Linked DNA regions of Homo sapiens. The protein of the gene in region 2 purifies or fractionates together with the protein of the main gene of each other region. This does not show direct contact. Each region holds a gene or a part of one and is shown on either strand. Other genes may lie near its edges.

The links.
Region 1: the proteins of GAGE1 (region 2) and MIPEP purify together in Homo sapiens (affinity purification with mass spectrometry; one large-scale study listed by BioGRID and IntAct). This does not show direct contact.
Region 3: the proteins of GAGE1 (region 2) and THUMPD3 purify together in Homo sapiens (affinity purification with mass spectrometry; one large-scale study listed by BioGRID and IntAct). This does not show direct contact.
Region 4: the proteins of GAGE1 (region 2) and PRKG1 purify together in Homo sapiens (affinity purification with mass spectrometry; one large-scale study listed by BioGRID and IntAct). This does not show direct contact.

Annotation. Positions count from the first base shown.
Region 1 is NC_000013.11:23,726,812-23,733,933, forward strand, and holds the end of MIPEP (mitochondrial intermediate peptidase), read right to left. Parts: intron 3,635-7,122; coding exon 3,537-3,634; 3' UTR 3,378-3,536; downstream 1-3,377. UniProt on the Homo sapiens protein: Cleaves proteins, imported into the mitochondrion, to their mature size.
Region 2 is NC_000023.11:49,595,841-49,604,517, forward strand, and holds the start of GAGE1 (G antigen 1), read left to right. Parts: upstream 1-3,179; 5' UTR 3,180-3,287; intron 3,288-4,326; 5' UTR 4,327-4,334; coding exon 4,335-4,418; intron 4,419-4,883; coding exon 4,884-5,004; intron 5,005-7,827; coding exon 7,828-7,953; intron 7,954-8,223; coding exon of another isoform or gene 8,224-8,252; exon of another isoform or gene 8,253-8,264; intron 8,265-8,677. Other genes in the region: GAGE2A (G antigen 2A/2B), read left to right, coding at 871-893. UniProt on the Homo sapiens protein: Antigen, recognized on melanoma by autologous cytolytic T-lymphocytes.
Region 3 is NC_000003.12:9,371,192-9,379,101, forward strand, and holds part of THUMPD3 (tRNA (guanine(6)-N(2))-methyltransferase THUMP3), read left to right. Parts: coding exon 1-345; intron 346-3,324; coding exon 3,325-3,455; intron 3,456-6,627; coding exon 6,628-6,697; intron 6,698-7,910. UniProt on the Homo sapiens protein: Catalytic subunit of the THUMPD3-TRM112 methyltransferase complex, that specifically mediates the S-adenosyl-L-methionine-dependent N(2)-methylation of guanosine nucleotide at position 6 (m2G6) in tRNAs.
Region 4 is NC_000010.11:52,268,956-52,276,865, forward strand, and holds part of PRKG1 (cGMP-dependent protein kinase 1), read left to right. Parts: intron 1-2,394; coding exon 2,395-2,534; intron 2,535-3,436; coding exon 3,437-3,526; intron 3,527-7,910. UniProt on the Homo sapiens protein: Serine/threonine protein kinase that acts as a key mediator of the nitric oxide (NO)/cGMP signaling pathway. GMP binding activates PRKG1, which phosphorylates serines and threonines on many cellular proteins.

The DNA.
Region 1 (7,122 bases), on a different chromosome or scaffold from region 2:
AGATGTTTCCTGAGCTCTCATATATCTGAGAATGTCATTTTACATCTCCGTCTTCACCTCTCAAAACTTCTTTCAATTCTTTGGCTCTTAATAGTAATCAACACTTGCACTCTGGAGTCACTGTAATTCTTGCTCCTTTACAGCTACGCCTGTTATTTCCAGCTGAATATTTTTAGTTATTTCCCAGGGTTCCAAAAAACAGCAATAAGTACTACACAAAGGGGGTGGGCCATAACCAGAAATGTTTGGGAAATACTGGCTCATGTATGCAATGCCAAATCTGGTTTGCGATTGTAGTGTTGCTCACATGCAGAGTGAATCTTCAGAGAATCCATGCATTTTCCAAATATATTTAATAACAGGACCCTTCTGAGTTCCTGGTACACCAACTAACAGTTCCTGAGAAGTGTTCTTTCTGCAAAGCCCATCTTGGGATATGCCATATATTTTAATTAAACTCAAACTTTAAATTAAACTCAAATATTTTATTTAAACTCTCAAAAAAGCAGAATATATCTAGATGAGGTCTCTTTCCACTATGTTTTAATCTGGAATTCAGAATTCTCTCTTTTGTTTGCTTTTTAAAAAACTGTGGTAAAATATACATAATATACCATTTACCATGGAGCAGAACCATTTGAATGTGTATAGTTCAGCGGCACTAAGGACATTCGCATTGTGTGCCACCATCAGGGATTCTTTCGAATTGCACAGCCATTCTTTCAGCTTAAAAATGGTTTCTTGAAATCAGTGATTAGCATTCACTCACCAGTACCCCTACTAAGGGGTAGGCACTGGTTTGTACTCCTGGGAATACAGGAGTACACCAGAATTTATTTCTGCTTATTGCTTTTGTTGCAAATGCCGTGGCTTCATCTGAGGAATTCTAGAATTCAGAGGGTGTAGCCCTCCACTCTGCTGTCTTGCTATCTGCTCTCATTGCATCTGTTTAACCTGCATTCTGAAAGATGTTTCTCAGGTTTTTCCTTGACAATTTTCTTCTTTTCTGATTCTGACAATGTTTTAAATCATTGTACTGTGGTTATCATTTCTCTGCATTTATTTTACCCATCTTCCTTTGTAACTTGTCCTATTGTCTTTTAATTTCTGCCTGTTCTTTATGGCTTTCAACTTCATAAATAACATGTTTTCTCAAATCTCTTTGTGAATTCCAGAGAGGGCCAGGCACGGTGGCTCACATCTGTAATCCCAGCACTTTGGGAGGCTGAGACGGGTGGATCACTTGAGGTCAGGAGTTTGAGACCAGCCTGGCCAACATGGTGAAATCCCGTTTCACTAAAAATACAAAAATTACCCAGGCATGGTGGCGGGCGCCTGTAATCCCAGGTACTCGGGAGGCTGAGGGAGGAGAATCGCTTGAACCTGGGAGGCTGAGGGAGGAGAATCGCTTGAACCCGGGAGGCAGAGGTTGCAGTGAACCGAGATCATGTTGCTGCACTCCAGCCTGGTCAACAGAGCAAGACTCTGCCTCAAAAACAAACAAATAAACAAACAAACAAAACAGAGAGATTTTGCTGCAATGTACAAGGAGCAATTTGCTCCTTTAAAAAAATAATTTTTGGCCAGGCACAGTGGCTCACACCTGTAATCCCAGCACTTTGGGAAGCCAAGGTGGGTGGATCATTTGAGGTCAGGAGTTTGAGATCAGCCTGGCCAACATGGTGAAACACTATCTCTATTAAAAATACAAAAATGTGCTCAGTGTGGTGGTGCACATCTGTAATCCCAGCTACTAGTGAGGCTGAGGTATGAGAATCCTTTGAACCTGGGAGGCGGAGGTTACAGTGAGCTGAGATCATGCCACTGCACTCCAGCCTGAGTGACAGAGCGAGACTCTGTCTCAAAAGAAATAATAATTTTCTAAGTTATGATTTTCCAGCATCTTCCAGGTCAAGTCTTCCTTTCCCTTTTCTGAAGAATGCTTTTAAAAAGGCTCCACATAGACTTCTTTTTTTGGTTACTCACCTCTACAAAAAAGACCTGATAAAGATGCAGGGGTTTTGTCACTGTCGGTGCACCTGGGTGCTGATGAAAGCACTTTTCAGATTTACCTGTAACTGATTTACCTGTAAATGTCTCCAAGTCTGTTTCCCAGAATGAGCTGGCATCTGTGTATTGCCAGTTTGTCAGGATAAGATCTCTTTTTAAGTTAGCTTGGATATTGTAAATAGGGTGAGACATAGAAACAGCAAGATTCCTCCCTGGGCACTGCACCAGAGCCCTTCCTCAAACCTTTGTCTCCGTTCCTCAGCTCTGCTTTGGGTACAGAGGAGACACCACTGCCAGGCTTGCCCGACTCCCTGCCCAAGGCTGTGTGAGCTGCAGTTTCCAAGTGCTGCTGTATAGAGAGAGAAGCTCCAATGGGGAGCAGCAGGGACAGGGACCCACTGCAGCACTCAGTCAAACGCAAAGCCCTACTTGGGGTGCTGGCTGCTCTGCTTTCTGGTCAGTACCGATTTGGATTTCTAAGGGTGAGGAGGAGGTGGGAAAGCATGAAGGGTCGATCCCCCTTGCATCCAGGAGCACCTGGCACAGGCCGGCCACTGATGATGTTTCTCCATCCAGTCCCATCTCTGAGCATGAAGAAATTCCTCCAGATTCTGCAAATAGGTTGAATGTGTGTCCTAGTTTTGGGTATTTTGAATCTTTCCTTTCATCATTGGTCTTTGGTGAGAAGCAAGAAGAGGCTGTTAGCAGATGCCTTTTTAAACTGGAAATTCATAATTTGGTTTTGACTTTAATGGTGGGAAAAACCCATTAAATAATTTATTTCCTGATATTAACCAAAATACAGTATGGTATGCAATACTGTAAAGCAAATGAGTTCCAGATAAAAACAGACATGGTCTGTTTCCTGATTCACCAGTTGCTTGACACTGGTATGTCACTTATTAATTGTACCTGCACTTACTCATTCTACCTTCATTGCCAAGCCAGTCCTCTGTGTTCTGAGTCTATTTGCCTAAACATTCAGGAAAAAACAGTACAGATAATTACATGTATTTTGGAAACCACACTTGGTTTGTTGGTTGCCTGTAATTGACTATTTAAAGTGCATTTTCTAAGCCTACTTTAGATAGTGGTCTTAAGAAATGGTCATCATTCTTAAAAGAACTATAAGTGTAACCTGTCTGAAGACTGCTTCAAACTCTGTCTTAAACAATTTTGCTTTTAGTTAATTATTTAATTAAACCAATTAAAGATCCATGGAAAGAGGGAAAAGCTCAACAGGAGAGTGGTTATACTAAGGAAATGCCCATACCCTCCATTTAACAATGCCATGTAGAAGTGTTGTTGTTACTAGGTCAGAGATTTCCATGTGCTCAAATATTTGCCAAACAGGTGAAAAGCCAGAATAATTAAAACAAATTATTTATTCCAAGTTCTACCAGTTTAAAGTTTTTCAGAATTACAGAAGCGAACAATGAAATCAGAAACAAGCTCTCACAGCTGTAGCATTTATAACAAAGTCATTATCTACATGACCTTGATTTAAGAGGTGTAGAGTGTTTCTTTTATTCAGAATCCATGAGGAAAGTTTCGAAGTCCAGATCCAAGTCGGAAACGAGGGCACTTACGAAGTCATCAACAGAAGGACACTTCTGAAGCATACCTGCAAACAAAGGAAAGGTCAGAACTGCGTTCACCAGGAGGCAACAGGAAGCACAAAGACACAAAATCAAATCCACACACTAGAGGAACACTCTGGCTTTCTGAATTAAGACTCTGGCTGTATAACCTGAATGCAAGAACATTTTATAAAGTCATGGGCAGTGTGTGGGCCTTGGAGCTATTTATAATTTTAATGTATTTTTACTATCAAATCCATCCTTAGCTTAGAGATTTAGGCCTAAATATATTTCCTAAGGGCTATTATTTTTGCATATATGACTATACCCTTAGAGACTGATATTAGAAGACTGATTTTTTTTTAGTTATCTTTGACTGGGATGATTCACAATTTAACAAGTTTAATTACATATCAAGTTTTGTTATCAAGTTCTATACACTTTACAATCAATTAGATGTTAATTCTTTTATAGAAATCTTATATCAGAATCAAGTTATTGGCTCTCCTCCAGATTTCCCTGTCCCAGAGAACTCCTAGCTTTGCAACTTAGTAACTGTGTAACGCAGAAGTCACTTAAAATCTCTGGCATCCAAATTTCCTACAAGGTTGCTATAAGGATCAAACAAGAAGATGTAGTAGAAGCAATGAAGCACCATGCCTAGCATATATTAAGAATTCAATAAAAAGCTGAATTCATGTCCTTTCTTCACTCTAAAGAAGCCAAAAACAAAGATTGATGCAATTAACCTTATTGCTTTAACCTACATTCTTGGCAGGAAATGCTAACTGAAGGGTTGAACAGGCTCTATATACTGATATTTACTTTGGGAGATGAATTCTGTAAAACCATTTTCAAAATCAAGGCATTAAAAGATTGCAGGAATCCTCTATTGTTCTCTGAACCTGTATTGCAATTCAGTGAACATGAAGGAAGCATCTGTTGTGTGTAAAGGATCAGGCCAGGTCATGGGCATACAGGTGGGCAGGCTCAGTCACAACATGAAGAGTGAGAGTAGTCGGCTGGGCAGAACTGCATATCCATACGGCAGAAAACTAGCCTTGACTCCTACTGCATACCATACATAAAAACTAATTTGAGATGGTCACAGACCTAAGTGTAAACACTAAAATTATTATCTTAAAAAAACCGCATGAAGTATCTTTGTGACCCTGAAGTAGGTATAGTTTCTTAGGACACAGAAAGCAATGCATAAAAGGAAAAAATGTTAGATTTCATCAAAATTTAAAATGTCTCTTGAAAAGAAACCATTAAGCCAATGAGTAGACAAATGATAGTTGGAAAAAATACTCACAAAACATATCTCACGTAAGACTGGTATCCAGAAAATATAAAGAACTCCTTTGACCCATTGTAAAAATATGTTTTTTTAAATTACAAATTGACAAAAGATTTTACCTTCACAAGGTCAGGTTTTTCACAGAAGATATCTGAATAAGTAACACAACTAATAGGCACTGAGAAGACATTCAACATCATTAGTCACTAGGGAAATGAAAACCAAACCCACAATGAGATACTATTACACATCCACCAGAATAGCTAATTTTTTTTTTTTTTTTTTTTTTTTTTAAAGACAAGGTCTTGCTCTGTTGTCCAGGCCTGGACAACACAGCATGTGCAGTGGTGTGAACATGGCTCACTGCAGCCTCGACTTCCCAGGCTGAAGTGATCCTCCCGTCTCAGCTTGAGAGTAGCTGGAACCACAGGTGTGTGCCACCATGCCCAGCTAGTTTTTAAACTTCTTGTAGAGATGGGGTCTTGTCATGTTGCCCAGGCTGGTCTTGAACTTCTGGGCTCAAGCGATCCTCCTGCCTTGGCCTCTCAAAGTGCTGGGATTACAGGCGTGAGCCACTGTGCTACACCAAATGTTGACAAGGCTGTGTGCAACCTGAATTGTCATACATTTGTGGTGAAAGGATAAAATGATACAATCACTTTGAAAAAAGGTCTTAACCAGTGTCTTACGAAACTAAACATAGACCTACACTAGGACCCAGCAATTTCACTCCCAGGTATTTATCCAAGAGAAATGAAAGCATATGTCAACAAAGAAACAACTTGTACAACCCCAAGCTTGAAACAACCCAAGTTTCTATCAATAGGACATGAATACACACACTACAATATATTCATATGATGGAATATTACTCAGCAACAAAAAGGAACAAACTATTCATACATGCAACAACACAAACGGATCTCAAAAACATTATGCTGAGTGAGAGAAGCCTTATGTGAAGCAGTACATACTGTTTGATTCCATTTATATGAAGTTCAAAAAGTTAGTCAAACCAATCTATGGTGAAAAAAATCAGAACTGTGGTTGCTTTCGGGAGTGGATATTAGAATCAACTGAGAAGGGGCAGGAGGGCCTCTGGTGTGATGGTCATGTTCTACATCTGGATAGTGATTTGAGTTATAAAGGTGTGTACATGCATCAAAATTCATTGAAAGGTACATTTGAGATTTTGCGTTTCACTGTATGAAAAGTTTACCTAAATACAGTAAGCAACTATTGAACTCTAATGCTATGCATGTAAACGAATCTAGGTGTAAAATGTACTGATGTCTGCTACCTTGAAATGCATAAAAACATAAGGCCAGATACGGAGATGAAGAGATGTAAATATAGGAAAATGTTTACTAAATGGCAAGTATATGAGTGTTGTACTGTTCATTCAATTTTTCTGAATATTTGAAAAATTTTAACATAAAATCTTGAGAAAAAGTAAACTGTAGATGCTAATAGCATACAAAGTGCAGTCAGTGTGGAGAACAGAAGAGAAAGATGAATTCCAATGAAGAGATTCAGCAGGTTTGTGGAGGAGATGGGATTGAGCAGAAACTTAACAGATTGGGCCTTTTAGGTGGAGGAGACAATATAGGAAAGGCACAAACCTGGGGAAATGCACAATGTATGCTGACCAAGAAGTGGTCTGGCGGGTAGAGTAAGGCTGGAAGAGACTCTGGGAGAGGAACATGAGAGGTCCCAGGGCTCTGAACCAGGGCAACCAACAGAAAAGGAAGGACAGACTGGGCTGGAATCCAGGAGGAGCAGGGTGGTGTGGAGACACAACCCTTGTCAAGTTTGAGGTGGAAGGGGACACTCCATGTGGAGACAGTGAGGACACAGAGCTCAGGGACAGCTTGGGGACTAGAGGTGCAGATGTGATCATCCCACCAGAAAGCACATGGGGTGGGAAATAGACCAAGGACTATCTAGATGGTGGACATGAAAATACTTGGTCCAAACACATACTTGAAAGCCCTTAACTAGACCAGGGGTAGTTGAGAACAATACCAATATTGTTACAGTTTCAACTGTAGACTAAAATATTTTCACTGGCTATCTAATGTCTATCTAAATTCTAACAGCTCTATCTTAGGTACTATGTGAGGAATAATGGGCTGTTACTAGTTACTAGAAGAGAATGTCATTGCTGTGTCTATTTGTGCAATTAAAGTTCAAAACACAGTGTTCTTTTTTACAGTAAAATAATCTGCATGC
Region 2 (8,677 bases):
TTCCAGTTTCATCCATGTCCCTACAAAGGACATGAACTCATCATTTTTTAGGGCTGCATAGTATTCCATGGTGTATATGTGCCACATTTTCTTAATCCAGTCTATCGTTGTTGGACATTTGGGTTGGTTCCAAGTCTTTGCTATCGTGAATAATGCCGCAATAAACATACGTGTGCATGTGTCTTTATAGCAGCATGATTTATAGTCCTTTGGGTATATACCCAGTAATGGGATGGCTGGGTCAAATGGTACAATTGCTTCTTAAATCTTTCCCCACGGAAACCTTGAGTGACTGAAATAAATATCAAATGGCGAGAGACCGTTTAGTTCGTATCATCTGTGGCATGTAGGTCAGTGATGCTCAGCATGGGTGTGAGTAAGATGCCTGTGCTATGCATGCTCCCTGCCCCACTGTCAGTCTTCATGAGCCACTATTTCTAATAAGACTGTAGACACACATACGATATAATCATCTCTAATCATATCAAATGTTACATGTAAGTTTCACCTTTAGAGACATGAATTGATAAGATTTGAAGTTGAAAGACCATGACTCTAGTACTTCCTGAGTAATCAACTGAAGTATGCTTTACACATGTGTTTTCCAAATTGCTGACTGTTAATTGTAAGTGCTTGTGACTTGAAAGGAAGCACTTGATGTTCAGGGAGGAAATTCCTTTTAAATTCTGCAGGTCTACGCTCAAAGTTTATGCAGAGGTTCAATTGCGTGTAAGACACGGGATCACCCATAGGGTTCTGTTTTTAGTCCATTTAATAAAACCCAAACTGTAGTGTGCTTTGTATGCCTTTAGGGTCATCTGAATAATCTGTTGCTAAGTCATGTTCCCAATCGTTGTGTTTCTGTTACAGGTGAAAAGCAATCACAGTGTTAAAAGAAGACACGTTGAAATGATGCAGGCTGCTCCTATGTTGGAAATTTGTTCATTAAAATTCTCCCAATAAAGCTTTACAGCCTTCTGCAAAGAAGTCTTGCGCATCTTTTGTGAAGTTTATTTCTAGCTTTTTGATGCTGTGAAATATGTATCATTCTTTGAAATCGTGTATTGTAACTCTCTGAGCTGGTATGTAGAGACATCGTTCTTTTTTTTTTCTTTCTTTCTTTGTCCTCTTTTGAGACGGAGTCTTGCTCTGTCGCCCAGGCTGGAGTGCAGTGGCGCGATCTCTGCTCACTGCAACCCCGCCTCCCGGATTCAAGCAATTGTCTGCCTCAGCCTCCCGAGTAGCTGGGATTATAGGCACCCACCAGCACGCCTGGCTAAGTTTTGTGTTTTTACTAGAGATGGGCTTTCGCCATCTTGGCCGGGGTGCTCTTGAACTCCTGACCTCGTGATTCACCTGCCTTGGCCTCCCAAAGTGCTGGGATTACAGGCATGAGCCTCCGCGCCCGGTGGAGACATAATTCTTACATATTGGTTTTCTATCCAGCGGCCTTGTGAAATATGCTTGTGAATTCTAAAGTTTACTTCTAGGTCGTTTTCAGTCTTCAATATACAGAAACATATCATCCTGGAATAAGAGCAGTTTTGTTTCCGCCATATTTTTTTCTTTTCCCTTTTGTATTTTTTTGTAGAGACGGGGTTTTGCCATGTTTCCCGGGCTGTTGTTGAACTTTTGAGTGCAAGTGATGCACCCACCTCACCTCCCACAGTGCTGGGATTACTGGCGTGGGCCACCGTGGCGGGCCCGTCGTTGCCATTGTAAAGAGTTTTATTTCCTTTTCTGATTTTATGGCATTGCGCAGACCCACCCGTTACAATGGTGACAGTGGACATCCTTGTCTTATCCCTGATGAGAAACCGAAAAATTTCAACATTTCACCATCCTATTCACTCTCCTTTTTTTGTAGACGGACTTTATCAGAGTGAGTCATTGCATTCTGTTCCAAATTTGCTGAGAGTATTCATTTGAATATATGTTGATTTTCATCAAACAGTGCATCTATTTCGATTACCACAGCGTTTTTTCCCATTCATGTGTTAATATAGTGAATTCGATTGATAAATTTGTACGTTTTTAGGTTCGATTATTAAAACTTGAGACAGCGTCTCACTCTGTCACCGAGGCTGGAGTGCGGTGGTGTTATCAGAGCTCGCTGCAGCCTTGACCTCCTGGGCTCAAGCGCGCCTCCCACCTCAGCCTCCTGAGGAGCTGTGAGTATAGGTACATGCCACCATGCCCAGCTAATTTTTCGATGGTTTTTTGTTTGTTTTTTGTAGTGATGAGATTTTCTGATGTTGCTTAGGCTGGTCTCGAAGTCCTGAGCTCAGGTGATCTGGCCAGCTCAGCCTCCCAAAATACTAGGATTACAGGCGTGAGCCTTGGCCTGGTCTGGTTTTTCTTATATAGGGGTCTTATCTATATAAAGACTAAAGTTAATCTGTGCCTTTGTGCGGGTGGGCTAAGAGCATGATGACTTTTATCATTCTATTGATTTAAAGAAAACTGTCCTTGACTTACCAGTGTGTAAGTCCATGAAAGCATAATTCTGTTGAAAGCATATATTGTTAATGGGTGTTGGGAACCGTGCACTTTCCGCTGCTGTGGGAGCATGTCCTTGGAGGTACCTTTCATCTGTTTTCTCAACTCCAAACATCTTAGGACCATGGGTTGTGACTGGTAGGACTATGTATCTTGCTGCTTTCAAGACGGAGTATATTTTCACGTGGTGTCACTCTGGCTGTCCTGTTTCCCTAATACTGTCACTTCACCCTCTGCGATTCTGATGCTACAAATGATAGATATCGTTTTAGCATTTTCTTACGGGTCCTAGCGATTCTATTCATTTTTCTTTCAGTCTCTTTCTCTGACTTGTTCACATTGAACAATTTCCTTTTGGGATAGGTTGCTATTTCTGTTTTCGCAGGTGGTTTACCTGTCTTCCCAGCCAGTCACAGTGGTCCTTGTCCCCATGGTGGGTCCGGGGCAAGAGAGGGCCCTGGGTTGGGGGTGGGGTTCAGTTGAAGATGGGGTGAGTTTTGAGGGGAGCACTACTTGAGTCCCAGAGGCATAGGAAACAGCAGAGGGAGGTGGGATTCCCTTATCCTCAATGAGGATGGGCATGGAGGGTTTGGGGCGTGGCGCTGGGAACGGCAGCCCTCCCCAGCCCACAGCCGCGCATGCTCCCTGGGCTCCCGCCTCAGTGCGCATGTTCACTGGGCGTCTTCTGCCCGGCCCCTTCGCCCACGTGAAGAACGCCAGGGAGCTGTGAGGCAGTGCTGTGTGGTTCCTGCCGTCCGGACTCTTTTTCCTCTACTGAGATTCATCTGGTAGGTGTGCAGGCCAGTCATCCCGGGGGCTGAAGTGTGAGTGAGGGTGGAGAGGGCCTCGGGTGGGTCAGGCGGGTCCCGCTTCCTGGTCTGTGGCCTCCGAGGGAGAAGGGCCACGAGGTCGTCCTCCTTCCCTTCACAGGCTGCGAGGCCACCGGCGGCTTCGTGGTCGTGAAGGGGCCTGGACGGGGAGGAAGGTGGGCCGTGGAGGGGAGGCGGTCAGGGGCTCAGGTGAAGACGGGGTGAGTGCTGTTGGGGGGATGGAAGTCCCGAGGTGCCGGGATCCCCGACGACACAGGGCAGATTCCCTGAATGGGGCCCCCGGCGGGGGCGAGGCGGGCGGTGAAGAAGGGGCCTGGCACCTGGGAAGGCTGCGGCCTGGCGAGCGCCCCCTCAGCGGTGTGGAGTGCGGAGCGCCCGAGTGAGAAGCACTGCAAGGTCTCACCTCCGCCATGGAAGGTCCGAAAACAGTGGGAAGGAGTGGGCGAGGCAGTGCGGTCCAACCAAACTTGTTGTGAGGGGGGGTGAATGGCTCTAGGAAGTGGGAGTGTGCCCAAAGCAGCAATCACGAGAATTGTGATTCACTAGGGTTTTCGTGGGGAGTGCACTTGTGAAACTAAACCTCATCAGAAATGACCTCTGTCTGCGGGGCGCAGTGGCGCTCGCCTACGTATTCCCAGTTACTGGGGACACTGAGGTGGGAGGATCCCTTGAGCGGGAGGTCGAGGCTGCAGTGAGCTGTGATCACGCCGCTGCACTCCAGCCTGAGCAACACAGCGAGACCGCGTGTCCAAAAGAAATTTAGAAAAAAATGTCCTCTGCCTTTTGCCACACGCCTTAAGATGATTGCTCTGCCAGCCTGGCCAGCAGAAGTGGCTTTGTAGGCACTCAGACAGCGTACACACGTATGCTTAACTCTGGGACTTATTTTGAGAGTATTTTCAAAAGTAAAACGGCAAGTTAACATTTATCCATGGAAGTGATCGAATATAGCAGCCCTCTGGAGCGCACGTTCCCAATCACGGTTGTCTGTTTTCAGTGTGAAATATGAGTTGGCGAGGAAGATCGACCTATTATTGGCCTAGACCAAGGCGCTATGTACAGCCTCCTGAAATGATTGGGCCTATGCGGGTGAGTGCTTAAACGTTAATTCGATGTTTTCTATTAGTAGAAATTAATTTTTGTGATAGCGTCGTTGCATTAGTGTGGAAATGCTGATAAAGGTCTTTCCTGCTCATAAAAAATGAGGATGGCATCTCATGAAGGAAACATTGATTCTGGAGGATTTTTTTTTTCCTCTCGTGTTCTTCAGCTTTTGCCCATGACTTCTTTCTCCGGCTTTGTTTGTTAATGACAGATTGTACACATGTATTCCAACACAGAGTATAATAGCCCCCAAAGTCCTCGTGCGTCACTTTTCTCACAGTAACCTCCCTGTGGGTGGAGTAACCTTATTGGGCATAGAGCATAGAGTTGGAGAAATGTCTTTAGGCTTAGTTAGGACCAGAAATAGCTATGTATTCTGTGTATATATGTAAAATTTTGTATCAATAACGAAACTTATTTTTTATTTGCACACCCACACGTATTCCCCAGCCCGAGCAGTTCAGTGATGAAGTGGAACCAGCAACACCTGAAGAAGGGGAACCAGCAACTCAACGTCAGGATCCTGCAGCTGCTCAGGAGGGAGAGGATGAGGGAGCATCTGCAGGTCAAGGTGAGGGAAAGGGAAGAAGAACGTCTGCTGGTGTGTGCGTGTGTGTGTGTTCGTGTGTGTGTGTGTGCACGTGTGTGTGTGTGTGTTAGGCATTGTCACATAGGAGGAAGAGGAGGAAAGAAAACAATGGAAAGAATGCCTGAAATTGACTGGAAAAGCGAGGAGGCTATGTAGTTCGCAGCTTAGCTTAGGCAAATCCCTCACTATGGTAAAAGATCTCGACTTTATGAATGAGAGAATGGAGGTGCCAGGATTGTGTGTTATCCAAGAACCCTTGACTGGTGAATACAACATTTGTACTGTGTTCCAAGGTTTGTGTCTTCCTATCATGTATGTTGCTGTAAAGAAGGAAGTGATTTTGCTGAAAATGCTTAAAACTCAAAAGGCTTTACTGTAAGGTAGCTTAGTACTGACCCAAGAATAGACCCAGTTCAGAGGAGCAGGAGCAGCTCCAAAAACCGAGTCGCTGAATGTTGGCCCCCGTTTCCTTTGATTGATATTTTTATATGGTACGTTTGATAAAAGCTGGATAAATGAGGATACTGCCATACAGGTAGCTGGTTTAGTGATTTTTCTCAGCGGCCTTTAGGAGGTGATTAAATCCTTTTATGGTTAGAAAAGCAAAAACGGAATTATCCTGAGATTAACGTGAGATGGAAATAATTTCTCCGAGATAAAATGTTTTGAAAGGAAGCATTTATGTAACGGAGGTCATGGATTATTCCAGGGATGCACTGTTAAAAGTTCCTAGAATCTGACTGACAACAATGCCCATTAATTGCTGTCCGCCCACTCCCTTATTCTCAGTGCGGGGGACAGTATATTTTCTGTGATTCACAAACAATGTTATATTTGGTGCTTTGTTCTTCACGGGGTTCATTTATGGAATATTACCTTTAGGACCTTCGGACCTAAATATAACTTTATTTGAACAAAGTGAAGTTTCTCTTTACCCCAATAGGTAATGGGTGTCGTGACTGTAAGATTTTCCATAGTCCTCAAATCCATCCAGCTAATCAATCCTTCAGAAACTGACATTGTAATTGTAACTGAAATCCTACCCACGTGGTAGACTTCAGATTTCTCAGCTGACGCACACTGCTGTTGGTACTCTAGGGCTGAATATAAGCATTATACATGTCCTGTGGTTTATCCTTAGATTGTCATTTAGGAGAAAGGTCTAAAGCTGGGCTGAATGCCATGCACTCATAGTCCCAGCTACTTGGGAGGCCGAGGTGAGAGGATTGCTTGAGTCCTGGAGTTCAAGCCCAGCCTGGGAAACACAGTGAGACCTCATCGCTAATAAATAAATAAATGGATAAATAAATACATAAATAAATTCATTAAATAAATAAAGTTTTCATGGTATAGGAAAACACAGATGCAAAGTTTTTGTGCCTAGTGGCTGGTAATGTTGCAAACGTAACTCCTTAGTGAACTGTACCACTTAAAAATAGTTAAGATGGTAAATTTTAGGATATCTGTATTTTGTACCACAATTGGAAATTCCTTTCTTCCTAAAGTTCAGTGCAGTTATCATATATTCTTTTAAATTTTTCCTGTATGTATCTTCAAGTCATAGCATTCATAGAAAATTTGCAAGAATAGTACAATGAACTCATATACTGTTCATCTGGATTCACCAATTGTTAGTAGCTTTCGCTTCATAGGTTTCACATCTCTTCCCTCCGTCTCTTACCGTGCTGCCCACACACTCACACACACACACACACACACATACGGATATATGTTTACTGTTATTAATGCTGAATTGTTTCGATAAAGTTTCAGGTATTATGGTCCTTTACCCTATGTACTTGAGGGTGTGTTTATCGTCAGAACAAAGAGAAAGTCATTTCTTGGATCATCACTGCACAAAGATCAAAATCAGGAAATTTAACAATGAGAAAATGGAGTCATTTAATACAGAGTGCATACTCAAATTTTGCCAGTTCCCCAGAAAATTTCTTTTTTCCTTTTTTTTTTCTTTGTTGAGACGGAGTCTCTCTCTGTGGGCCAGGTGGGAGTGCAGTAGTGCGATCTCGGCTCACTGCAACCCACACCTCCCAGGTTCTAGGGATTCTCATGCCTCAGCCTCCCGTGTAGCTGGGACTACAGGCGCCGGCCACTGCGGTCTTGAACTTCTGGCCTCACCTGCTCTGCCCACCTTGGCATCCCAAAATGTTTGGATTGCAGGCGTGAGACCCCACGCCCGGCCCAGATAATTTTATTGATAGGATTTCTTTTTCTGATCCAGAGTCCAGTTCAGAATCACACCTTGCATGTGCTTTTCAGGTGTTTTTAGTTTCCTTTAACCTGTAATGTTTCCTTAATTTTTCTTGTCATTCACGATACGGACATTTTTGGAGAGGATAGACCAGTTGGTTTGCAGAATATTCTGCAGTTTGGGCTTTTTCATGTATTTTTAAAAGAGTTTTCTCACTCAGCGTTTATTGGTGGCTACTCATGCCATGTAAGAGTCTAAGCGCTAGGAGTGTAAGTGCTGTGAGAGACGGGATTTGAGCCTTGAGTCATTTAATACGAGAAGGACAATCAGAAGTAGAATAAGAGAGAAGTGCAAAGGAGGCAGCAAAGTTGTCTGAGGGCAGTCTTCGGAAAGGAAGAGGGTAATATTTGGAACACCTTGTTTTCCTGTTTTCTGCTAACGGACTCCTGAAATAATGTTCCTGGGATTCTTATCAACACATTTATTATTACGTTAGCTAAAGCTTTTATATAATAATACCGAGAGCATGAATATCATTTTCTTATTCATATTTTATGTTTTACTGCTTAAATTGATACGTATTTTTTATTTTTAAGGGCCGAAGCCTGAAGCTGATAGCCAGGAACAGGGTCACCCACAGACTGGGTGTGAGTGTGAAGATGGTCCTGATGGGCAGGAGATGGACCCGCCAAATCCAGAGGAGGTGAAAACGCCTGAAGAAGGTAGGCAATCCATTAGGCATGCACATTGTAGGGTGTCTGTTTCCACAGTATCATATTGTAAGTCTTACTATGTTTTTGAGACGGAGTCTCGCTCTGAAGACCAGGCTGGAGTGCAGTGGTGCCATCTCGGCTCACTGGAAATTCTGTCTCCAGGGTTCAAGTGATTCTCCTGCCTGAGCCTCTGGCGGAGCCGGGGTTACAGGCGTGCTCCGCCGTGCCCAGCTAATTGTTGTATTTTTAGTAGAGACAGGGTTTCGTTATGTTGCACAGGTTGTTCCCGAACTCCTGACCTCAGGTGATCCACCTGCCTCGACCATTGAAATTGCCGGGATTACAGGCGAGAGCCACTGTGCCAGACCCAGCATTATATTTTTAGTAAGAGAGAGTTAACAATACTGCCTCTTTAGTAAAGAGTTCTTATATAAAGGTTATTTGAAATGTAGTTCAGGCCCCAGCACCCGAGTGATAGACTTTCAGATAGGGAAACAAGCTGAGTCAAAGGTATGTTGAATTAAAAGTTTTGAGTATAAATCCTCAAACCAGTAGCTCATAATTTTCAAATGCTTTTGCAAAGGTCTGCTTTTAATCAATACATAACACATTTGTAACACCCATCACTTGGTGTGAAAAATGCTGAAGCACTCATGCGGGTTCTAATATCAGCTCTTACAGCCTTGGTGAGATTCTGAGTGAGTCCTTTCACTTCTAAACCTATCTTTGGTTG
Region 3 (7,910 bases), on a different chromosome or scaffold from region 2:
AAAGAGAAGATTAATAATGGACAAGAAGTCAAAATCGATCAGAGAAATGTTAAAAAAGAGTTCACTAGCCATGCTTTAGATTCTCATATCTTAGATTATTATGAAAATCCAGCCATCAAAGAGGATGTATCAACATTAATAGGTGATGATTTGGCATCTTGCAAAGATGAGACTGATGAAAGCTCAAAAGAAGAAACTGAGCCTCAAGTGCTGAAGTTTAGAGTCACATGCAACAGGGCAGGAGAGAAACATTGCTTTACCTCAAATGAGGCTGCAAGAGATTTTGGGGGTGCTGTTCAAGATTATTTTAAGTGGAAGGCCGACATGACCAACTTTGATGTGGAGGTAGGTATAGGCTCTGACTGTGGTGATTGAAGAATGCTGTCACAGATTTGTAGAATTTCCAGACTAACCCAATGTTATGCACAATTAAACTGAGGAAATAGTAGGGTGTGGTTAAGAAGAGCATAGGCTATGGAGACAGATTTAGATCCAAATTTTAACTCCACAACTGTATAACTTTGGACTAGATAGTCTCTGAGCCTCTGTTTCAAATGGAGCCAATAATATTATGTACCTTTAAGGTTATCCTGAAGGATAAATGAGGTACATTTAAAATATTTGGTGCAATACCTTGCATACACTAAGTGCTCCATAGATGGAAGCCATCAAGGTTGAGTTGTCTGTTTTCTTTTTCTTTTTCGAGACAGAGTCTTGCTCTGTCACCCAGGCTAGAGTGCAGTGGTACGATCTCAGCTCACTGCAGCCTCCACCTTCCTGGTTCAAGTGATTCTTGTGCTCAGCCTCCCAAGTAGCTGGGGCTACAGGCACATGCCACCACACCTGGCTAATTTTTGTATTTTTTAATAGACATGGGGTTTCACCCTGTTGGCCAGGCTGGTCTCAAACTCCTGTAGTGATCTGCCTGTCTTGGCCTCCCAAAGTGCTGGGATTATAGCTGCACCTGGCCTGATTTCTAATAGACTACTCTTTTACTATATTATATGGACTTTCATATTATAAAATTCAACCAGAATTAAAATAGTTATTTTGTTTTTGTGTGTCTTGGTTGCAGAGCTTTGCTACTGAAAAAATAAAATAAGGCTGGGCGCAGTGGCTCACGCCTGTAATCCCAGCACTTTGGGAGGGAGGCCGAGGCAGGTGGATCACTTGAGGTCAGGAATTTGAGACCAGCGTGGCCAATATGGTGAAACCCTGTCTCTACTAAAAATACAAAAATTGGCCCGTCATGATGGCACACTCCTGTGGTCCCAGCTACTGGGGAGGCTGAGGCAGGAGAATCACTTGAACCAGGGAGGTGGAGGTTGCAGTGAGCCAAGATCATGCCACTGCACTTCAGCGTGGGTGACAGAGCAAGACTCCATCTCCAAAAAAAAAAAAAGTGCATTTTTTAAACAAACCCTGACCTTCTCAAACCAGGACATCATTGCTAATACTCATCCTAGAGTCAGCTCTCCTCTTTCTTAAATTCTGCTAGATTTCCAAAGCCAGGTACCTCATTTTAGTATATTTACTTTCCTTGGTCTTAATCCTCTTTTATCTGGGTGATTGACATGTGAACCATAGGAACTAAAGTATTTAAGTCTCTGACACCTTAAAACATCTCTAGCAGCTGATATATTTACCAAAGAGTCAATTTCCGTTGCTTTTGGGACACTTGAATCTGGGGCAAGTCACTGATTCTAACTTTTTTGTGCATGTCAAATCAGGAGTCTAATTCCCCATTCCTTTTTTTCCTCATACACTGCCTTGCAAATGAATACGTGGCTCACACCTGTAATTCCAGTACTTTGGGAGGCCTTGGCAGGCAGATCGCTTGAGCCCAAGAATTTGAGACCAGCCTGGGCAAAATAGTGAGACCCTGTCTCCACTAAAAATAAAATAAATATTTTAAAAAATAAAATGAATAGGTTAACCAGAACAGTGATGTCTAAAAGTTAGCAAGGTGATTCAGAGGAGTTTCTGGAGCCGTGCTGCATTGGTTTAAATCCCAGAGGAGGCTGGGTGTGGTGACACACACCTGTAATCCCAGCACTTTGGGAGGTCAAGATTGGAGGATTGTTTCAGGCCAGGAGTTCTAGACCAGCCTAGGCGACATAGGGAGACCCTGTCTCTACAAAAAATAAAAAAAAAATTAGCTGAGTATGATGACAGACACCTATAGTCCCAGGTACTTGGGAGGCTGAAGTAAGAGATTGCTTGAGCCCAGGAAGTCCAGGCCACAGTGATCTGTGATCATGCCACTGCACTCAATCCTGGGCGACAGAGTGAGACCCTGTCTCAAAAAGGGAATTCCTGAGGAGCTGTCTTTGTGCCTCAGTATCCTCATTTATAAAGGGAATAATACCTAGCTTAGGGGATGTGAATATGAGATGAGGCCATGTATGTAAAATGTGTAGAATAGTGCTTTGCATTAGGAAGTGCTGTATGAGTATCAGCTGTGCTTCTGCTGTGGTTAAGCTCAGGAAGTCTTTCAGTGAAAGATTGGGGAACATTTTGGTTTAGTTTAGTTCACTTTTGAGACAGGGTCTCGCTGTATCACCCAGACTGGAGTGCAGTGGTGCAATCATGGCTCACTAAAGCCTTGACCTCCCAGGCTCAGGCTGTCCTCCCACCTCAGCCTCCCGAGTAGCTGGGACTGTGGGCCTGTGCCACTGCACTCAGTGTAATAAGACTTTTTATTTGAGACTTTACCAATTTTTAAAACTTTTTTGTTGAGATACACTTTGCACCCCTTAAGTACACAAATCTTAAGTTTTCAGTAAGTTTTTACTTATATACACGATGTGTAAACAGCATCCAGATAGAGATACAAACTATTTCCAGTACCTCGGGCTCCCCTTGCCCTTTCCCAGTCAGTACCCACTCAAGGCAATCACTAATCTGACTGCTACCACCAAAAATTCGTTTTGCCAATTTTTGAACTTCATATAAATGAAATCATATAGTATATAGTTTTTTTCGTTCATTTTAATATCTATTATTTTCTTTTAATTCACTATGTTTATTGGCTACAACCAGATTTCACCCCAATTTTTATAACACAAACATATTTTGAAGGCTTAGAGGTTTTTTAATATGTATTTTTTAAATGTCTTAACTTTTTAGACAGTTCTGGGCTGTGGTGCGCTATGCCAATCAGGTGTCTGCACTAAGTTTGGCATCAATATGGTGACCTCCCAGGAGTAGGGGACCAACAGGTTGCCTAAGGAGGGGTGAACCGGCCCAGGTCAGAAAAGTCTTATTACTAAGCGCAGTTTGAACAATCCTAAAACTATTTTGTCTTGTTCCACTTTGCTATAGGTTCTTTTGAACATCCATGATAATGAAGTCATTGTGGGCATTGCATTGACTGAAGAGAGTCTCCACCGAAGAAATATAACACATTTTGGACCTACAACTCTTAGATCAACTCTTGCCTATGGGATGCTCAGGTAAGAAAATGAGTTTGCCATCCAGCTTAAAGTGGCACCTTGGTTTGAATGTTCCCTTCAAAATACTGATTTGTGTGTATGTGTGTTTGAGGTACTGTGTTGGAATAGAGTGGATAAAGAATAGAATGGAAAGCTAATGATCTATTTCTTTCCCTTCTATCCAATATTGACTCCTTGTGATCTGAAAATACTGCTTAATAGGTGGCTCAGTTTTCTTTATTTCTTTTTTTGAGACAAAGTCTCACTCTGTCGCCCAGACTGGACTGCAGTGGCGAGATCTCAGCTCACTGTAACCTCTGCCTCCCGGGTTCAAGCGATTCTCCTGTCTCAGCCGAATAGCTGGGATTACAGGTGCCTGCCACCACGCCCAGATAATTTTTGTATTTTTTTAATAGAGACGACATTTCACTATGTTGGCGAGGCTGGTCTCAAATACCTGACCTCAGGTGATCCACCCGCCTCGGCCTCCCAAAGTGCTGGGATTACAGGTGTAAGCCACCGCGCCCGGTTTTCTTGATTTTAAAATGAGAGTAATAGTTTTCACCTGCCTCTTGAATGAGGTTACCACATTTCTGTTTAGCAAGGATATGTGTGTTGGGAGATAAGAGTAAATTTTGCTGTTTCATTTCTGTGCAGTGAAAAAGATGAAAGCAGAGATTTTTATGTGTATAACGTGTAAATGAACAGAAAGAGCTTTTACTTATATTTTTAAGCTTTATACTCACAGCAACTCAGGAATCATCCTAGAATTTTTTGCTTTTCAGAGTACACGACCTATCTTTCCTTCTCCTTTGCCCTTCTCTCTTTTATTGGGTGCTTCTTTCCACCACTTGAAAATGTTTATTTTCTCTAAAGCTTCTGTTTTCCAGATGGCAAAATGGATTTGATGTGAGACTTAAAGGATTATTAGTGAGGATTAAATGCTGAAGCATATGCAAAATACCTATTATATACAGTGCCTGGTATGTCCTGGTAGTTAAGTCCAGTCATGCATCACTTAATGACAGGGATACATTCTGAAAAATGTGTCATCACGCAATTTCATCATTGTGCGAACCTCATGGAGTGTACCTACACAAATCTAGATGGTGTAGCCTACTACACACCTGGGCTATGTGGTATCTCCTATTGCTCCTAGGCTACAAACCTGTACAGCATGTTATTGTACTGAATATTGTAGTCAGTTGTAACGCAGTGGTATTTGTGTATCTAAACATAGAAAGGATAGGGCAAAATATGGTATTATAATTACTGCATTCATATATTTGGTCCACCATTGATTGGAAGATTGTCATGCAGTACACGACTGTATTCCTTCTCTTCCAATCTTTTATCTTCCTAACATATTAATTCAATGACGATAATAGAAAATTGGGCCCATTTGATAAAGGAAAATCTTCTAGTCTTCATTAATTTAACAAATATGCATTATCTACTGCCAGGCATATGGTAGAAACCAGGGATACAGAGAGGGTGTTATTTTGGGTGCAAATATTTAAAACCTAAGTAATCAAGTTTAGGATAAAAAAGTGATAATTGTGCCAGAGAGGGGTTTATTGGAAAGATAAAGAGAAATCTTGGGGATTCTACAGAAAAACTGAATGTTGGTTCTCAAGAAGGGTAGGAACCACATCTTGGAAAACCACCAGAAATGTAGGCAGCCATTTTTATCTCCCCTTAGAGCCTGTGGACTCTTGTCTCTTCTCATCTACATGCTTTCTCATCTAAATTTATGTATTTCCAATTCCAAACGACCAACCCACACTGCCTAGGGCTTTTAGCTCTTTGTTCCAAATTCCTGGAAGAGAGGATCTGATGGACATTGTTTTGGTCAGATATTCACCCCTGACCATCAGGAATGGCTTGGAGTACAGGGTGCTTACCCCCTCAAGAGGGTTGCCAAGGATTCTATTGCCATGTGTTGAGGAGTAGGAGCAAGGAGATAGAGCAGGACCAATGTTACAATAAGAACCCACTATTAACCCCCAAGAATCTGTCTTGTGAGGGAGATAAATAGTTATCATACATGCGATAAGTCCCACACCAGCACATGAAAAGATTAGAAGAACAAGAGAAGGGAAGAAACCTACTGACCTGTTTCAGGGTGGGATGCTTCATAAAGAGGATAACAGTTAAGCCACTAACAGTAATGCCTCTAATCTTGAATCTGTTACCTACTAGTTTTGTGTCCCTGGGCAGGTAACTTCATGTTTCCTTGCATCAGCTTACCTTTAAAATGAGAATAATGATAATTATCTAACAGGGTCCTTACTGAGGATTCTGTGAGATAATGCATGGAAAGAGCTTAAGTCCATGCCCAGGAAATACTAAGTGCTCAAAGTAAAGCATTTTTTTTTCCTTTTTTTATTACCTAGTCCCACAGAGCAATTTTTTTATATCAAGATTAGCTTTAAATTCAGAAGGAAAGGAATACTGAATGTCTCATTGCCAGTAACCTTATATTGATGCATGTTTGACTTGAGACATTTTTGAGTCTTTTTAATGTAATACAGGTTTCTGTTGAAAACAACACTGTTGTCAAAAAGTATGCATGAGCGTGTGTGTGTGTGTGTGTGTACACATGTGTACTTTAAGATGTCTGCAAACTAAATTTCATCTGAGAGTGAAATGGGATTTTGGAAGATAGTCAAAGGAGATTTAGTTATAAGGATTTTTTTTCCCCAAGTAATGGAATATACAGTCAACATATCATTATAAATTGATTTTATTTATTTATTTATTTATTTTTGAGACGGAGTCTTGCTCTGTCACCCAGGCTGCATCTTACATGATCTTGGCTCACTGCAATCCCCGCCTTCTGGGTTCAAGCAATTCTCGAGTCTCAGCCTTTGTACTAGCTGGGATTACAGGCACCCACCACCACGCCCAGCTAATTTTTTGTATTTTTAGTGGAGACGGGGTTTCGCCATGTTGGCCAGGCTGGTCTTGAATTCCTGACCTCAAGCGATCCACCCATCTCAGCCTCCCAAAGTGCTGGGATTACAGGCGTGAGTCACCGTGCGCGGCCACAAATTGATTTCTAAAATATGTGTAGATTGGTGTTCCTTCGGGCTAGTGTGGTAGGTCCTCAATCTTAAAGCTTCAGGAATCATCAGTATAGAAGCCTCAGCTTTTGAGTGAGTCTTCACATAGGCTGTTTTCTTTTCTCTAGGCTCTGTGATCCTCTACCTTATGATATAATAGTCGATCCAATGTGTGGAACTGGGGCAATACCAATAGAGGTAATCATATTTCTTTAGCTTTTAGATAAGAGTGATACATCCAGAATATTCTAGACCTAATGGGCAAATTAGACATAATGAAATCTCCATGGTTGGATCAGTGGACCCAAGAGTTTTAAAACAATTAACAATAGAAAGTGGAACTTTTTTGTAAAGAATGTAACTACTTATTTCAAAGAGCCATGTGCCACTGGCCTAGATACATTGTTAGTGACATCTATTCACTAGATTACAGAGGAAGCTGAGAATTACAAACTGCCGATGAGTCCTCTTTGTGTAACAGACAAGCTGGTAGACTTGAATGGGAAAAGATAATTGAAGGCATAAGCATAAACTGGAGGAAGGCAATTTTCTTCTCTGTAATCCACTTAAGTTCCTAGAGGGAATAAGTATAGTTGTAAAAAGGGGAAACTTATGAACATTACTTGGATTTTTTAGGAAGTCTAACAAGCTTAATACCAAATGCTCTTAGTTTTCAAAATTACCATGATATTGAGAGGACTCATAAAAACTGTGTAAAGCAAAGCAAGAAATGGAAAGGCATTTTCTAAATGGAGAATATTTCACAGTAGATTCCCCTTGAATAATCAGTATCATCTATATGTTTTTAAAGAATTTAGAAGAGGGAGCTCCCAGTAAAATCACTGAAGTTTGTGTGAAACATAGTAGTTCTTCCATATAGTATACTGACAGCCAATTTGAATAAACTGCAGGGAGACACAGCAGATTATATGATTGGGTAGAAACTGGACAGATGAGCAAGTCCAAAGCAAGCCCACAAGGGGAGAAATAATCCAAACTGTAATTAGAAAATGGTATCTGTTCTGGGAGTTAAAATCCAAGACTGAAATCATAGAAGTCTACATGTGACTGTGTTCCGTGAAAGCTAGAGAAATTACTGTGGCTTAAAGAGACTGCACAGTAAAAACCCAGTCCTTCTTGTGGCCAAGAAGGATTCTGGGAAGAAAGCAGAGTGTTGTTTTCTAGTATGAAATCATGATATGTGTATGAAATAGCAGGTAAGGTCACCGCATGTCAAGAAATACACAACAGAGCTCCGAGTAAAAATAAAGGCCGAAAAAAATTAAAACATGAAGTTTGAGCCATTTCCATGTAAGAGTAGACATGCAGATGTCAATGTAGAAAAACCTAAGCCGATATATGATCAAAATGAATAAAATTATGAATAAATTGACAAGGTATATATAAAGAT
Region 4 (7,910 bases), on a different chromosome or scaffold from region 2:
AGAGAGACTAGTTGCTTAGACTGAGAGGGACTAAGTGGAGTCAGAATTCAAGTCCAGACCTGTGACTATAAAGGCTGAATTCTTTCCTCCTACCCTGTGTACAAGTATAAAAAAAAAAAAATCTGTGTATCTGTGTTATCATCACTAAAGAGAATCATTTTTATAGTAGGCATTTTTGAACAACTGCACAACAGTCCTCACTAGTTTAACTGGGAATGACTCTGAAGAGGGAATATGACTTTACTTCTTCTTCTCTGAATTGTAGTACTCTAACATAGCTCATTTTTCATGCCATCTTCCCTAGCTTTCCAGATTTCTTTTAGAAGTGAGTTTTCACATTTGGTGTTTTATTTTGAGTTACTACTGAATTTATTTGTAGCACACTAATCTGTCATCTTTGAGTTTCACAGCCAGAGTACAGGGTCTTTGGCTGTTAAAAGCATTTTCAAATACCCATTTTTCCCTCTACCTGTCATACTGATTCACAATTGCTGGCAGCTAACCGAGGCCCATTTATTTGCAGTATCTTCATGCTCCCTCCTAAGGAACTTGCCACATGAATATCTTCGAAGATTGAACTCAATCTGTACATGTGTGCAGGAACAAGACACTTAAGACCTTCGCTATCCCTGCTGATGAAGCAGTAAATAATTAACGACTAAAGAGGGGACAGCCATACTTCAGCTGAAAAGCAGAAACAGCATGCCATGTTATTTCCCCAAGGTTACATTACTCCCAAATAATATGGGCTGTTTGGTATCATCTTGAGGATTCTGCTGCTTGAGAGCACTAGATGATAATGTCCTTACATTGCTTTTAAGTAATTAGCTCTATTACCTCTCTTGTTTTTGTTACAAGTCACCTTCTTGAAATTTCTTGTAAAACCATAAACAGCACCCTGTCTGAGTAAGGCATGTGGAAGATCCATGCCTCCTCTGGAGCCACTGGGAGCCATGAGGGCTGCAAGAGAGGCATGGCACATTGAAAGATATTAAGCCTCCAAGTCTTCCCAGTTATTAGAGAGTAAAGTTTGAGGTCAAAGGAACTAAAGCCATCATGCTTGTTTGAGAAGAAAAACAAACGGTTTTCAAAATCTCCTGAAAAAATCTTGTTACAATTTTTTTTCTCTTTAAACTGTAGGGAGGGAAAATTCTGCAAGGTTAAAAAGAAGAAATGAATACAGTCAGTACTGAAGAAATAACAGTCTGCAGTCTCAGCAGAGACTAGGGTCCACCACTCAAGCTAAAAATTAGAAATGTTAACAACAGGTGCTGGAGAGGATGTGGAGAAATAGGAACACTTTTACACTGTTGGTGGGACTGTAAACTAGTTCAACCATTGTGGAAGACAGTGTGGCGATTCCTCACAGATCTAGAACTAGAAATACCATTTGACCCAGCCATCCCATTACTGGGTATATACCTAAAGGATTATAAATCATGCTGCTATAAAGACACATGCACACGTATGTTTATTGCGGCACTATTCACAATAGCAAAGACTTGGAACCAACCCAAGTGTCCAACAATGATAGACTGGATTAAGAAAATGTGGCACATATACACCATGGAATACTATGCAGCCATAAAAAATGATGAGTTCATGTCCTTTGCAGGGACATGGATGAAGCTGGAAACCATCATTCTCAGCAAACTATCGCAAGGACCAAAAACCAAACACCGCATGTTCTCACTCATAGGTGGGAATTGAACAATGAGAACACATGGACACAGGAAGGGGAACATCACACACTGGGGACTGTTGTGGGGTGGGGGGAGGGGGAAGGGAAAGCATTAGGAGATATACCTAATACTAAATGACAAGTTAATGGGTGCAGCACACCAACATGGCACATGTATACATATGTAACAAACCTGCGCGTTGTACACACGTACCCTAGAACTTAAAGTATAATAATAATAAAATTTTAAAAAAAAGATAAAAAAAATTAGAAATGTTTGTGGATTAGAACTAAGGAGGAAGAATATAAAGGCCCATATAACCCTATTTTTGGCCATCTTTACTGAAATAAAATTGGAAAAGAAGTTTTTTTTCTACTCTTTTGACAGAAGAACTATAAAATGTATTCAAACACACTCTATGACATGAAATAATAAAACTAGAACTAAGTACATTTTCCCTCTTCTAATCCACACGTGAACACAATTAATTTGGAATCAAGTTAGTTAAAATTCAGCCAATTCAGAGCATGAGATTGGATGATAGCTGTGAGCCCTGGATGTTAAACGCAGCTCTACCAAGGATTTACTGTGTTTTGACTTGGGAGGTGGCTGAGGTTCATTTAAGTGCGCCATGTACCTGTTAATTTGGGGATAATAATGCACTCTTACAAGTCTATGGGCTTTTTCTTACTCTCTTCTCTCTTTCTTTAAGGTCCAGTTGAAAAGTGAAGAATCCAAAACGTTTGCAATGAAGATTCTCAAGAAACGTCACATTGTGGACACAAGACAGCAGGAGCACATCCGCTCAGAGAAGCAGATCATGCAGGGGGCTCATTCCGATTTCATAGTGAGGTAAAGGCTCCATGCCAGGGACAGACGTACCCAACTCCAAGTGACAAATCCACCACAAAACCCTCTGCCACTTGTGCTCACTGTTAACACATTTCGTATGCACAAAGAAACTTCTTTTTAATCTAATCTTAAGAAAGTTTTGTTTGATTTCTAAAAATAAAGTTCTGACTCTATTCTTTCTTTTAAAGAGAATTAGTGTCTGAAAACAATGTGTTTTCCCAAAGGAGGTACCAGAGTTTCTAACATTCCATTTTTATCTTTTTTTAAATCCCCAAACTCTACATAGACCTTTGATGCTTAAAAGACAAAATATCCAAAATCAAACTATTTAACCTTTAATTATCTGAATATTTTTTGAAGATCTAAAAAAATGAAATGACAGCTGACCATTCCACCTCAGTACTAATAAATGGATAATGGGGAGATTTTTATATGTGGAAGCAGCTTTTTGTAGTGAATTTTCCAGTGGCATTTACTGAAAACAAGATGTAACATGAATTTGAGCGAATAGCATATGAAATTTATACATGTCTGAATCTGTAAAGTTTAATCCACTTTATTCCCATTTTCACTGCATGTTGATGACCACTAAATGTTGCCCCAAGGGTCTATGCTCAAAACATTACCCAAATTGGAATGGAAAGAATCCCAAGAAACCCTCTTTGTCCATAATCATTATGATTAATCCATTTCAAGGGAGAGATTAGCGCCTTAGTTTCTTCTATTAAAATCCTATTCATGAGCCATTGGCTTCTTTTCCCCATGTGTGGGCTTAGATCTCTCTCATTCTGACAAAATTTTGAGCTTGGCAAATCAAAACTATAATCTGGGCCCCCCAAAATTGCACACTTGTAAAAGACAGTAATGTTTATAATCTTTGTTTTCTTGTTTGCAATTTACAGACTGTACAGAACATTTAAGGACAGCAAATATTTGTATATGTTGATGGAAGCTTGTCTAGGTGGAGAGCTCTGGACCATTCTCAGGGATAGGTAGGAGATTTAAGAAATTTCTATGATATCTCTAAAAACAGTTGCCCATGTTGGTCTATAAGAAGAGTTAATATGATAAAGTATAATAATCATATTTATAATTTACACATGCTTATATTTCAATATTTAAAGTAAGCACAGGGCATAACCCACTATACACATATGATTTACTGTACATATAACAAAACTCACTTTGTAACTAACAATACAGGCTTAGTCGATCATAAAAATGGTACATAGCAAAATATATACATGGCCTTAGTTTTGCATGAATGTTAGAATTAGCTCTGTAGCTGGAATTCAATTCATTGCTTTAGCAGAAAGAGAATTATAGTTATTTTATAATTATAATTTGAATTAACTATCAGTTTAATTGCTCTACTCTTTTTCCAGATAGGCAGTTTGCCTTTTGTGACATTGTGAATTTTTTCCAAAGTAATTTTTCCCTCTACCTTTACATGGCTCTTTGGTTTCAAAATTAACAAAAGTTTCCAGCCATCTCTTTATCCCTTGGCTAGTCTTAGGAAAAAGAAAAGAATCCACTTATAAGCAATATTTCATGTAAATTATCTGATTTAGATTTACCTTCTTACCCTTCCAGGGCAAGGAAAGTTTGTCTACATGGTGCTTGTTTGTTCTAATCATGCAAATTCATTGTCTTAATTTTCCATCTCATATTTAGATAACTAGCAAATTATCTAATTATCTTCTAATATAATTTATCCTATAAAATGTCTCAGGAGATCATTATCTACCCTGTGTTTTTTTAAAAACACACTTTTATTTTCCTATGAATAATCTTTTGATTATTTTCCATGAATGATTTATTGATCATACAAAAGTCATCTTTGTTCTTTTGAACACTCACATTTAGACATCTGTATTTTTCTTATTTGTTTGAGTCCTGCCTCCCAGACTCTCCTTCACAGGGTAGCATCCTTCTGAAACTTAGCTATAGGTAGCCCTGATGTATATAACCATGTAATGTTTTTATATTTGTTACTTTGCAGATACCCCAGAATAAAACAAGTGGTTCCTTATGAACTGTTGATTTAAATTCTCATTCCTAATGGTGTTCTTATGGTACCTTCATATCTTTGTACAACAGGCCCTTTCGTGTTATTCCCATGGCCTTTCTTATATATGCCAAATGGATTTCTTGTTACCACATTGTATCCTATTGCATCGGTATTTTATTTCAATTCTTAAATTTAAGGTTAAAAAAGCATAAAAGGGAATGTAATCATGTTGGCATTAGGCGATAAGGTTAACATCTATACTAAGCTATTATATCATAGTGTATATATTATGTATTATTGCTAGTTAATATGTACATAGAGATTATATACCAGGCATTGTGATAGAGGCTGGGGATCCAGTAATAAACAAAACAGATGGGGTCTCTCTCCTCAGAATGTATAGTTTGTGGCACAAAGTTAATATTTTAATCTGTGAGTTAACATTTGGCATATCTAATGTGTTTCTACTGTATTATATTTGACTTGATATTTCAATTCACTGATTTATTTGAAGTCTTCTACTTTTTTTTCTAATTAGAATAGAAGAAGATTTACAGGTGGAATTAAACATGAAAGCAATAATAAGCCACAAAGGGAGAGCCCAGCTATCCCTCTTATAGCTTATTATTTTTTTATTTTTTCATAAGTTATTGGGGTACAGGTCATATTTGGTTACGAGTAAGTTCTTTAGTGGTGATTTGTGAGATTTTGGTGTACCCATCACGCAAGCAGTATGTACTGCACCATATTTGTAGTCTTCTATCCCTCACCCCCCTCCGACTCTTCCCCCCAAATCCCCAAAGCCCATTGCATCATTCGTATGCCTTTGTATCCTCATAGCTTAGCTCCCACATATCAGTGAGAACATGTGATGTTTGGTTTTCCATTCTTGAATTACTTCATTTAGAATAATAGTCTCCAATTTCATCCAGTTCCCTGCAAATGCTGTTAATTCATTCCTTTTTATGGCTGTGTAGTATTCCATCATATATATACATATATATATATACATGCCATCATATATATATATATATACACACACACACATGCCATCATATATATATATGCCCTCATATATATATCACAGTTTCTTTATCCATTCATTGATTGATGGGCATTTGATTTGGTTCCATGATTTTGCAATTGTGAATTGTGCTTCTATAAACATGAGTATGCAAGTATCTTTTTTGAATAATGACTTCTTTTCATCTGGGTCAAATGGTAATTCTACTTTTAGTTCTTTAAGGAATCTCCACACTGTTTTCCATAGCAGCTGTACTAGTTTACATTCCCTCCAGTAGTGTAGAAGTGTTCCCTGTTCACTCCATCCACACCAGGATCTATTGGTTTTTTGATTTTTTGATTATGGCCATTCTTGCAGGAGGGAGGTGGTATCACCTTTTGGTTTTGATTTGCATTCCCCTGACCATTAGTGAAGTTGAGCATTTTTTCATACGTTTATTGGCCATTTGTATATCTTCTTTTGAGAATTGTCTATTCATGTTTTAGCCCACTTTTCATTGGATTATTTGTTTTTTTCTTACTGATTTGTTCGAGTTTGCTGGAGATTCTGGATATTAGTCCTTTGTCAGATGTATAGACTGTGAAGACTTTCTCCCACTCTGTGGGTTGTCTGTTTACTCTGTTGACTGTTCCTTTCGCCATGCAAAAGCTCATCAGTTAAACTAGGTCCCAGCTATTTATCTTTGTTTTCATTGCATTTGCTTTTGGGTTCTTGGTCATGAAATCTTTGCCTAAGCCAATGTCTAGAAGGGTTTTTCCAATGCTATCTTCTAGAATTTTAGTAGTTTCAGATCTTAGGTTTAAGTCCTTAATCCATCTTGTGTTGATTTTTGTACAAGGTGAGAGATGAGGATCCAGTTTCATTTTCCTACCTGTGGCTAGCCAATTATTCCAGCAGCATTTGTTGAAAGAGTGTCCTTTCCCCATTTTATGTTTTTGTTTGCTTTGTCAAAGATCAGTTGGCTGTAAGTATTTGGGTTCATTTCTGGGTTCTCTATTCTGTTCCATTGGTCTATGTTCCTATTTTTGTACCAGTGCTATGCTGTTTTGGTGACTATGGTCTTATAGTATGGTTTGAAATCAGTTAGTGTGATGTCTCCAGATTTGTTCTTTTTGCTTAATCTTGCTTTGGCTATGTGGGCTCTTTTATGATCCCATATGAATTTTAGAATTTTTTTTCTAATTCTGTGAAGAATGATGGTGGTATTTTGATAGGGATTGCATTGAATTTGGATTGCTTTGACAGTATAGTCATTTTCACAATATTGATTCTACCCACACATGAGCATGGGATGTTTGTGTCATTTGTGTCATCTATGACTTCTTTCAGCAGTGTTTTGTAGTTTTTCTGGTAGAGGTCTTTCAACTTCTTGGTTAGGTATTTTCCGAAGTTTTTGGTTTTTTGTTTGTTTGTTTGCAGCTATTGTAAAAGGGGTTGAGTTCTTGATTTGATTCTCCACTTGGTCACCATTGGTGTATAGAAGAGCTACTGATTCTTGTACATTAATCTTGTATCCAGAAACTTTGCTGAATTCTGTTATCAGTTCTAGGAGCTTCCTGGAAGAGTCCTTAGGGTTTGCCAGGAAAACGGTTATATCGTCAGCAAACAGTGACAGTTTGACTTCCCCTTTACCGATTTGGATGCCCTTTATTTCTTTCTCTTCTCTGATTGCTCTGGCTAGGACTTCCAGTACTGCGTTGAAGAGGAGTGGTGAGAGTGGGCATCCTTATTTTGTTCCAGTTCTCAGAGGGAATGCTTTCAACTTTTCTCCATTCAGTATTATGTTGGCTGTGCCTCCCTCAATTTACAATTGGCAATAAATCTGCACAGATTGCAACATACTTCAGGTTCATACACTCACTGATTGTTGTTACTCGTCAATGAAAAAGGTGAAATATTTTGATGAGAGATGCTTAGCTCCTGTTACATTCTGATATCCAAGAACTCAGTTTATGACAAGTTGACTAAACATTGTGATTAAATTTTAATTTGAGTCTATCAATATTCATAAATAACCTTCTATTTCTCTCAAATTGTCATCTAACTGCCATCTAGCTTAAAACAACCACCCATCCCCAAAGAGGGCATAAGGGCCTTATCTCTCACTGGTTTTAATTGAAATGACACAGCTGTCAAGGCATAATTCATTATTTCAAAGAGCTATATAAGGCAAGTGATTTATTTCTTTAAGTAACTATCTAAACTATTGATGAAACAGGGTTTCTTTTGTTTTAAATCAAATTTACATTGTCATTTCCAATTCTAATAGTAATTTTTCATTGTGAGTCACCTCAGTGTTATGCTTTGTGACTGCTTTCAAGATGTCTATTTTAAAATCCAC